3 linked regions of the Homo sapiens genome follow. The protein of the gene in region 3 purifies or fractionates together with the protein of the main gene of each other region. This does not show direct contact. Each region holds a gene or a part of one and is shown on either strand. Other genes may lie near its edges. The genes, in order: MTMR14, YME1L1 and ARHGAP20.

Region 1 (3,654 bases), on a different chromosome or scaffold from region 3:
CAGGAGAATTGCTTGAACCCAGGAGGCGGAGGTTGCGGTGAGCAGAGATCACGCCACTGCACTCCAGCCTGGGCAACAGAATGAGACTCCGTCTTAAAAAAAAAAAAAAAAAGAACCAATTCAGTTTCTGTTCTCTCACTTTTTCCTGTTTTTATTATCTCTTGTCCTTAGGATTCTTTTATTGCAGTGCTAAGCACTGAGCTGTGTCTGGCACATAATACTCACATTCGAAGGGATGAATGTAGGCTTCTGTATTTACATTTGTAATGTATGCACTGAAATTTCTGGCAAGATGTTACCAGGTAGTGAGATTTTGTTGTTTTTTTCCCAACAAGGTCTTCCTCTGTTGCCCAGGCTGCAGTGCAGTGGCGCCATGGTTCACTGCAGCTGACCTCCTGGGCTCAGGTGATCCTCCCACCTCAGACTCCCAGGTAGCTGGGACTACAGGCACATGCCACGATGCTTGGCTAATGCTTTGTATTTTTTGTAGTGACAAGGTGTCACCATGTTGCCCAGACTGTTTAATTCAGTCTGTTTTTTATTCAGTCTATTCAGTTTAATTCAGTCTCAAACTCCTGGGTTCAAGCGAAACGCCCATCTCGGCCTCCCAAGTAACTAGGATTATAGGCGTGAGCCACCATGCCCAGCCAAACTATTTTCAAATACAGAAGAAAATGCTGTTATCACATATTTCCAATAGGAAGCTTTCCCAGACAGGCACCACACTTACCAAACTGGGTGGCTTGTTCCTATAATGTACCCCACAACTTCCTGAGATAAATGTTACTGCTGCTACTATTTAATAGATAAGAGGCACAAAGTAGAGCTTACACCCACATTATCTCACTCAGTCCTCACTTACCCAATTTTACAGATGAGGTAGTTTAATGAGATGAAATCTCTAGCCCAAAGTCACAGAACAGGTAAACAGGGTAGCTGAGATTCTAAACCCTGTGGGTAGCCACTGGGCCCATGGTTTTAACCACTATCCGGCAGGGCCTCACCTGTACTTCCCCTAATTCCAGCTTTTATTAACAATTATTGCTTCTTTATTGGACTCTGTTTCCCACTAGACCTACTGGTAAGGACTTCATCTATCTGGCTTCCAACTTGATCCCTGAGGTCTACTACACAGCAGCAGCTGAACGAACACTGTTGACAAACATGTCTTAGCTATTCAGAGATCCCTGTCCAGGCTTCTATTCCCAGATGATGAACCAAATTGGAGAGGTTCCTTAACAGGACCAAAACATTGCTTAAATCCAATTCTACCCTGTTTAATTCAGTCTATTTTTTATTCAGTCTATTCAGTTTAATTCAGCATCATAGTAACAGCCAAGCCAGACAGTAAAAAAGCAAAAAATGCTATTTCTTCCCACCCAAACATACCCGAAGTCCCCCCTTTCAACAAGCAGGCATCACCCACTCAACATCACTTCAGTAACACTTTAAGGCCTTGCAAGGAGTGAAAAGTAAAAACAAACTCCAACAAGCTCCTCTAAGGTTAATCATGTTCCACAGTGGCCTTGGCCTAACTGTGAGGTTCTGCTAGACAAGGTGGGAGAGCCGTGGTGGTGAAAGATAAGGCAGACAGGTACAGAGTCAGGAAATACAGCTTTTAACCCCACTCTGCTTACTACCTCTGTGATCTTCGGCAAAGGCAAATTACTTCTCTGGGCTTCAACTTCATCTATAAAAGAGTGGTGAGGGCCAGGCGCGGTGGCTCATACCTGTAATCCCAGCACTTTGGGAGGCCGAGACCAGTGGATCACGAGGTCAGGAGTTCAAGACCAGCCTGGCCAAGATGTTGAAACCCCGTCTTTACTAAAAATACAAAAATTGGCCGGGCATGGTGGCACGCGCCTGTAATCCCAGCTACTAGGGAGGCTGAGGCAGGAGAATCACTTGAACCTGAGCGGCAGAGGTTGCAGTGAGCCAAGATCACTTGCGCCACTGCACTCCAGCCTCAGCGACACAGCAAGACTCCATATCAAATTGAAAAAAAAAAAGAGTGGTGATACTGTCTTCTTCACTGAATAGTTGTAGGGCTTAAGCTAGCAAGTAAAACCTCAACACCTGCCAAACAGAGGTACTCAACAAATACTAGTTTCAGTCTCTTTAAGGGATCAACACTAAACTTGTTTCCTTCCAGGAAAAGCTTTTACAAGGCAACCACCACTACGTTTCTCAATGTACTATTATGTTACTGAAGGGTAACATTTGGTATTACCTGAGAGCTTGTTAGAATATGCCAAATCGCAGGCCCACCTCAGGTCTTCTGAATCTCTGCATTGTAGAAAGATCCCCAGTTGATTCACTCATAAAATCAACATAGAAAAGAACCACTCTGTTGGGTGCGGTGGCTCTCACCTCTAATCCCAACACTTTGAAAGGCCGAGGTGAGGAAATCTGTTGAGCTCAGGAGACCCACCTGGGCAATGCAGCGAGACCTGGTCTCTACTAAAAATTAAAAAAAATCAGCTGGGAGTGGTGGTATGTGCCCATATTCCCAGCTACTTGGGAGGCTGAGGTGGGAGAATCACTTGAGCCCAGGGGATCAAGGCCGCAGCAAGCCATGATTGTGCCACTGCATTCCAGACCCCGTCTTAATTAAAAACAAAAACAAAAACAAAAAAACCCACCTTGATTACAGCTGAGCTTAATATCAGAATGTCATCATCAGGGCACAGAGGTAAAACCACCAGCCAGCCAGCACCAAAGAGGGTAGGAAGAAGGGGAACGAAGAGAATGGCAAGGCAAAAACAAAGAAAACAAAACAAAACAAAACCCTCTTGTTCAGAAACTTTAGCTTAAAGATTTACGGAAACTAAGTTTACCCAGCTGGGCGCGGTGGCTCACACCTGTAATCCAGCACTTTGGGAGGCCATGGCAGGCGGATTGTTTGAGCCCAGGAGTTGAGACTAGCCTGGCCATCATGGCAAAACCCATCTCTACTAAAATTCAAGAACTAGCCAGGTGTGGTGCCACACACCTGTAATTCCAGCTACTTGGGAGGCTGATGCACAAGGATCGCTAGAGCCTGGGAGGCAGAGGTTACAGTGAGCCAAGATGGCACCACTGCACTCCAGCCTGGGCAACAGAGCAAGATTCTGTCTTAAAAAAAAAAAGAAACTAAGCTTACCTAATTCTGGAAGGAGGAATTAAGGAAGAGCTAAGAACCATAAATAACAGGGCCATAACAAACCCCAATTCTTTAGGCTTGGCGATCCCAAGTTCTTAGGTTATATAACTGAGGATGTAATACTGTTTCTGTGATCTATTTACAAGAGCCCTTAACACTCTTTTCTTGGAGAACCCCACTACAACCTTGTGAAATGGGCACTCTTTTTTTTTTATTTTTTTGAGATGGAGTCTCACCCTGTCGCCAGGCTGGAATGCAGTGGTTCGATCTTGGCTCAGTGCAGTCTCCGCCTCCTGGGTTCAAGTGATTCTCCTGCCTCAGCCTCCCGAGTAGCTGGGATTACAGGCGTGCGCCACCACACCCAGCTAATTTTTGTATATTTAGTAGATACGGGGTTTCACCATGTTGGCCAGGATGGTCTCAATCTCCTGACCTCATGATCTTGGACTCTCAAAGTGCTGGGATTACAGGTGTGAGCCAGCACGCCCGGCCAAGATGGGCACTCTTATAGA
Region 2 (3,541 bases), on a different chromosome or scaffold from region 3:
CCGGGAGGCGGAGCTTGCAGTGAGGCGAGATGGCGCCACTGCACTCCAGCCTGGGAAACAGAGCCAGACTCGTCTTAAAAAAAAAAAAAAAAAAAAATCAAGATCTGATAAAGGACTTGCATTCAGAATATATCTTTTTTAACTTGTAAGAACAAGACAACCCAATTAAAAGAAGTAAAAGATCTGAATAGACACTTCTCCAAAGAAGATATACAAATGGCCAATAAGCACCGGAAGATGCTCAGCATCTTATGTCACTAGAGAAATGATCTAACTTGGATGAGATTAATTTGGATATGAGTGGTCCACTAGAATGGCCATAATTATAAAGGCAGACTATAAGCACTGCAAAAGATGTGGAGAAACTATAACCCTCCTACATTGCTAGTTAGAACATAAAATTATAGTCACTTTGAAAATAGTTCATAAGTTTCTTAAAAAATTAATCCAAACACTTGCATGACAATGTTTTGGGTGATGGAAATGTTCTAAAATCTAATTGTGGTGATGATTACACACACAACATCTTTCAACTCTACATTTAAAATGAATTTTATCATATGTAAATTATACCTCAACAAATATGTAAAAAAATTTAAGACAGATAAGACTTTATCAATATTTTATACGTGTATGTATGTACATACAGAGAGGGAGACAGAACAGGTTTGGGGCAATAAAAAACGGGCAGAATGATAACAACTGGTAAATCTGGATGCAGGGTATATGAGACATCCATGTATTATGCTGGCAACATTTCTGCCAGTTTGAAATTACATTAAGATTTAAGATTATCAACCAAAAGGTCAAGAATATAATGTAACAAGCTTCCTGTAACAATATCTATCTTTTTTCAATGAAGACCATATACAGCTTAAATTATTAGGAAATTGTAGATAATTTTAATGAAGTCAACGTCAAGAATATAATCTGGTTGTAATACCAATACAATGTGTTCTAAAATAATTTTTCTATTGAGTTAAATATTCATCTGTAGATCCTATAACAGCATGTTCATATTCACAAAATCTGAATGAAAAGTAAACACAACTTGGCATTTCTGACGCAGGGTAACACAAAGTTCACTTCGGAGGGGACTGAGATTTTTGTTTAATTTTGCTTTTGAAACCAAGCACAGTTATAGTCAAAATGAGGGACATTATTCAGAATGAGGTTATGTATTTATTTAACAAAATACTGCTTCTCTGAAGTACATTTCATTAGGGAGAGTGACAGTAATGCTAAAAAAAAGAACATGAAAATGCACACAGCATTTCTGAAAGGTTATAATAATTTATTTAATTTTTTTTTGAGACAGAGTCTCACTCTGTCACCCAGGCTGGAGTGCAGTGGCTCCTGTGATCTTGGCTCACTGCAACCTCCACCTCCTGGGTTCAAGCAATTCTCGTGCCTCAGCCTCTCAAGTAGCTGGGATTCCAGGCATGCACCCCACACCTGGCTATTTTTTTTTGTATTTAAATTTATTTTAATTTTTTTTTGAGGCAGAGTCTTGCTCTGTTGCCCAGGCTGGAGTGCAGTGGCATGATCTCAGCTCACTGCAACCTCCATCTCCCAGGCTCAAGCAATTCTCCTGCCTTGGCCCCCAGAGTAGCTGGGATTATAAGCACCTGCCACCATGCCCAGGTAATTTTTGCATGTTTAGTAGAGATGGGGTTTCACCATGTTGGCCAGGCTGGTCTCAAACTCTTGACCTCAGGTGATTTGCCCGCCTTGGCCTCTGAAAAGTGCTGGGATTACAGGCGTGAGCAACCGCGCCCAGCCCTATTTTTTTGTATTTTAGTAGAGACAGCGTTTCACCACGTTGGCCAGGCTGGTCTCGAACTCCTGGCCTCAAGCAATCCACCCGCCTCAGCCTCCAAAAGTGCTGGGATTACAGATGTGAGCCATGGCACCATGCCAAAAGGCTATATTCCTGGCTCTGTGTTTCCGAGACTGCTTTTAATCCCAACTTCTCTACATTTAGATTAAAAAATATTTTATTCATGGTCAATCTGGAACATAATTACTGCATCTTAAGTTTCCACTGATGTATATAGAAGGCTAAAGGCACAATTTTTATCAAATCTAGTAGAGTAACCAAACATAAAATCATTAATTACTTTCAACTTAATAACTAATTGACATTCCTCAAAAGAGCTGTTTTCAATCCTGATAGTTCTTTATTTTTTCAAAATATATTTGCCATGGGATGCTAATTTGCAATAGGTGTCATAATGAGAATAACCCAAACTGGATAAATGTGACAAATGATTGACAAAGCATTTCACACCCTTCAATTACACCACATCAAGAATGAGGGGAAAGCGTTGTAAAAGTAGACTACTGCAATGCTACTTGTATTCTTGCAATAAAACCAGCAAGCATCCATATCAAGAGAGTTATCATCTCACTTCCAACTTTTTCCCCTCAAGAACAATTTGAATCTCTTTGGCATCCAAAGTCTCATAGGTCAATAAAGCTTCTGCGAGATTCTTATGCTCCTTTGCATGAGTTTTCAAGATATGTTTTGCTCGTTCATATGAGTCCTGAAACAGAAAAGGAGATACGTAAGCAGCAGCAAATGCAGGGATGCGAAAACCAGTCAATGGGAAGAGAAAGAAAAACTTTATGTACCCTAAAAAATATGAAATCTGTTTATATTTATAAAATCATGTAGAATCTTGATTCTACAGTAGAGATAATTTGTGCATTATAACATAGTAAGGAAAAGAGAATAAACACCTGAGAAGGCAGAGACCACCTCTTCTATAACACTCTCTAAACCTTTCCATCATACAAACTTTCTGTATCCTTAACTACTCTAAAGCATTCCCTCTACTTCCTTGAAATAATCAAACCCATGGTCCCTCCTGTGGAGAATGCATTCCCTAAGCCCTCTCAAGTGCTATTTGTTCATGTTTACCCTAGTTACTTCACAGTAAACAGCTGAGCTCATTGTTCCCATTACCTCTTTCAGACCATTACTAACCTACCCTCTTATATAATGCACTCTTCCTATTCTGTTGAAGTCCAGGCCATTTGACTATGGAGCTATCCAACCGTCTTCATTGTGCCATCTGACAAACATAGTCCTTACTCACTAAAGACTTTGGCACTCAGCTCTGTCACTCTCTCTCTCTCTATTTTTTTTTCAGTCTCACTGTTGCTTAGGCTGGAGTGAAGTCAGGCAATCACAACTCACTACGGCCTCAACCTCCCTGGGCTCAGGTGATCCTCCCACCTCAGCCCAAGTAGCTGGGACTACAGGCATGAACCACCATGCCCAGCTAATTTTTCTATGTTTTGTAGAGATGAGGTTTTGCCATGTTGCCCAGGCTGGTCAGTCTTACCCTTAAAACCTGCCTGGCTGGGTGCGGTGGCTCACACCTGTAATCCCAGCACTTTGGGAGGCCAAGGCAGGTGGATCGTTTGAGCCCAGGAGTTCGACACCAGCCTGGGTAACATAGTGAAATGCTCTCTACAAAAAATAACAAAATTAGCTAGGCATGGCAGCATGCGCTTATAGTCCCAGCTACTCAGG
Region 3 (3,654 bases):
TAGCCTCACTTCCAACAGAGAGAAACTAAGCAGAGGATGCCTACAATTTAGTTGAGCAAGTCATTAGCAAAACTGGTTAAAACCCTTAGGATTCCTGATTTCTGATTATTATAAAATAAAATTGACAAGGGACCCAGAAAAATAGTTTTGAAAAACACAGGTGCAAAGGTAGAAGAGTAGAAGATTATTATTCTCCTCAGCCTAGTTATAAAGATACCCTTTATAAAAATCCCTGCCTTCATGGAGCTCACATTTTAGTGGATGGAAAGACCATGATATCTCAGTGTTCCCCTTTCAAAATTACCCAAGGGGAACGAAAAATTTTAGAGTCCAAAACCTCAATTTACTATCATAGAGAGATGTCTGTTAACAAATTCAAGGTAAATTTGTGTATCTGATGTTGGTAAGATGAGGGAGTCCCTGATGACTGATCTACTGATTTACCAATGACTTTGGTAAAGTATAAAGTTTGAGGCTAGGTCATCAACAGAAAGTGACAGGCTGGCTGTGCATGTGGGTGGAAATTTATATAAGACAGTTGACTCAAGTAGTTGAAGAATGCTGCACAGAAACAAAGTTAAGACTACTCTCACCCAGTATGAAGTGCCCATTAAGGTTGGTCATTAATGATACCAAGTAGTCTTGATGCTATATGATTTCTTCCAACAGTGCACAGAGTTAATCTAGAGATGAGATTTTAGGAGATGTATAGGAATGTAGAAAAGAAGGTCAAAGAAACAGAAGTTTTCTGCTAGACAGGGATGATCACGATAACCATGGAATTCAAGTTGCATAAGGAGGAAAGTAAAGATGGACACGGGGACTAACAGATGGAGAAAGTGGTAGAGTTTAGTAGGTTTGAAAGAAGCAGAAGGAATCTGGGCTTCCAGAGATGAAAAATAGAATGAACAAAGGCTGGCTGAAGAAAACAGATGGTGGTTACAACTCTTTTTGTCCAATAAAATGTCAAAATCTTGAATCAAAGGGGCGAACAGGAAAATAAGTTTCACAATGCTGTTACAATTTCTTGATGCAGTTGTTTCAGAAACTATATGTTTTAGTATGAAATATAAATTAGAAATTAACTTTAAATGCATTAGAGAAGGTTCTGTTTAAAACAATCTTGGAGTGTATTAACACTTAAGGCAAAAAAAACTCTTTACAATGAATGCTGATTTAATTCGTTTTCTCTAAGTTTAGATAGCTACATACAAATGTTTCTTAAAGTACAGTTGTTCTGCAATGAAGATAAAAACAGTATGAGCTAATTTTTCATTAATGCTATGTCAGTTGAATCACACACAGATGAAGAATTTCAGACTTTCCCCTGGCACTCAGATGATGCCAATAATCTGTCAAGTGGCAGGAAGGTAGCCTCAGTGATCTCTCAAGGTCTACGCCATCCCTTTAAACTTATTACACCTGGGGTCCTAATTTGGTTCTTTGCAAAACGCAAATCCATGGGTCTCCCAGTTGGTTCACATTGACAAAGGTAGCTATAGAAATTCACAATCAATTTTCTACTATCTCACTCATACTTTTTGATATCAATTTTCTTCTGTTGCTTATACAATCTTCCTTTCAGACAGAGCTTAAAGCTCAAACTTGGGTTAGGGCAAATTACAGTTCTCTTATATTGAAGATCACTTTTATCATTCCAGAGTCTTTATTGTGGGGTGGGTAAGAGACTGCTATGTTCACAGGGAATTCATATTAGATTAGTAGACTAAGGAGAGACTTCTGTAGAAATCATCTTAGTCTTCACATACTTATCAGAACTAGAATCCAGGTAGGGCATCACAATCTTCTGACACCCATCATTGACAGCCTCCTTTTTATAATGCAACCATTTAGGGAGAACACACAGTTGGAGTGTATTACAGTACAAAGAAGGCATTGAAGCACCTGCAGCACTGCTTAGTGCCTTTGACTCTGCAGTAGGAATAAGGTTAAAGGGGAAAGAATGGTGAAGAAAGAAGGAACAGACTGTATTGCTACTAGCTGCTGATTCCTAGTCAATCATGCCTATTGCTGATTTATAAAACCATCTTCTTCTAAAAGTCCATCTTTCCTTTTCAAAATACTTAGCAAATTCCAAGAAAAAATACCTCATCTGGCGGGAGGTTTGAGTCTTTGCCTTTGTACTAAATTTATGTTCAAGAACGAAAACTTTTGCTAGAAGCAACTCACCACTCAGTTGCTGGGCTGCAGCCAGGCGGCTGGGCTTCAGGATGAACTGGCACTGCATCTCTCGGGGGAGCTGTTCCATAAGGAAGGGCTCCTGGAGGTTGAAAGGGGTGGTAGAGTCCTTTGATCCCGGTGTCAGGAGTGCAGAGTCTCGAAGATGGCTCATTTTAATTCCATATGGATATTCATGCCCTACACAGAGACAAATCTAAATGTAGACTTCAGGCTGACTGGTACTGTTAGCATGTGTACTGCAAAATAGGAATGTACTGCAATTTACTCCTGGGACTTTTGGCATAAAGAATCCCTTTGTTTGACAGAATGATCATTTACACTCTTACAGTTGGAGACCAGTATGCAGGTGGTCCTACCAAAGTAGTTTTAAGGAGAGGAGGGAGAAAAAGAAGAAAAAAATCTTTAAAGATTATCTTGTTTGGAATGAATGCACAGATCAGTTTGCGAGTTCCATAATGCTGACTTTTCCAACACGTGCATCTAAGGATAACTAAAGGTATTCTATTGTCTCCTTTGACATTAACTAGATATATAAATTTTCAGCAAATACATGTCCTTGCTCAGTCTCAAATCTATGATTTAAAATATTTTTTCTACCTACCACAGAAGTATAAGGATCTATATATGTCAAGTATCACTATTATTAATATTATTTAACACAAGATGTTTGCCTAAAAACATTTCATTAATTTTTATTAGTTACACAGTTAGTTACTCAACTGGTTTGATTTATGCTTCCCTCTCACTGCTGCCCTCTGAGATTGATGTTCAGAGGCAATAATCAGAAGGAAGACTGCAGGGGATCAGAAACACAGAAACAGATGCAAAAACGAATATACAGACTATAAAAACTAAACCCTGGACATCTGACTACAACATGATTTTAACTCTTTAGTATTCTAAGTAATTACGTCCTTTTAGTGTAATCCTCAAATACCACTGATGTAGATTTTTTTTAAGTACAGAGAGCAAGTTCCCTTCTATTCCTGACTTATCACTAAATGTAACTCAGTGAACTCTTACTCTTCCTTTTCAGCTGGTCTAGGCATACAATGTCAATGTTTCATTAATATCAAGTACTACAGCAGCTTCCAGAGATTAAGACAGAAAAAGGCTTCTATGACAATAATAAAACAAAATCAATTTATCAAAACAGCCGGCAGCTAATCTACAATTGAGGTTTGCAGAACACATTAAAATAATGATTAAGCATTGCTGCTAAATCATGGGACAATAATGTCCTATGTCTCATTGTTTTTCAGTAAGAGCTAGTCAGGAAGCTTGGGGCTGTCATAAGCCTAAAAGTTACCATCTACATAGTTTTCATTAATATATTTTATTAAAACAATTATTTCAAGTGTTTGATTTTTAATAACTTTATTGCTCATTGACTATTACAAAAATGACAACATTAAAAACCTGAAACACAGTCAATTTTGTCTTTAGCTCTGT

The links.
Region 1: the proteins of ARHGAP20 (region 3) and MTMR14 purify together in Homo sapiens (affinity purification with mass spectrometry; one large-scale study listed by BioGRID and IntAct). This does not show direct contact.
Region 2: the proteins of ARHGAP20 (region 3) and YME1L1 purify together in Homo sapiens (affinity purification with mass spectrometry, with the first as the bait; one large-scale study listed by BioGRID). This does not show direct contact.

What each region holds. Positions count from the first base shown.
Region 1 is NC_000003.12:9,655,903-9,659,556, reverse strand, and holds part of MTMR14 (phosphatidylinositol-3,5-bisphosphate 3-phosphatase MTMR14), read right to left. Parts: intron 1-3,654. UniProt on the Homo sapiens protein: Lipid phosphatase that specifically dephosphorylates the D-3 position of phosphatidylinositol 3-phosphate and phosphatidylinositol 3,5-bisphosphate, generating phosphatidylinositol and phosphatidylinositol 5-phosphate.
Region 2 is NC_000010.11:27,109,575-27,113,115, forward strand, and holds the end of YME1L1 (ATP-dependent zinc metalloprotease YME1L1), read right to left. Parts: intron 2,547-3,541; coding exon 2,403-2,546; 3' UTR 537-2,402; downstream 1-536. UniProt on the Homo sapiens protein: ATP-dependent metalloprotease that catalyzes the degradation of folded and unfolded proteins with a suitable degron sequence in the mitochondrial intermembrane region.
Region 3 is NC_000011.10:110,604,371-110,608,024, forward strand, and holds part of ARHGAP20 (rho GTPase-activating protein 20), read right to left. Parts: intron 2,380-3,654; coding exon 2,191-2,379; intron 1-2,190. UniProt on the Homo sapiens protein: GTPase activator for the Rho-type GTPases by converting them to an inactive GDP-bound state.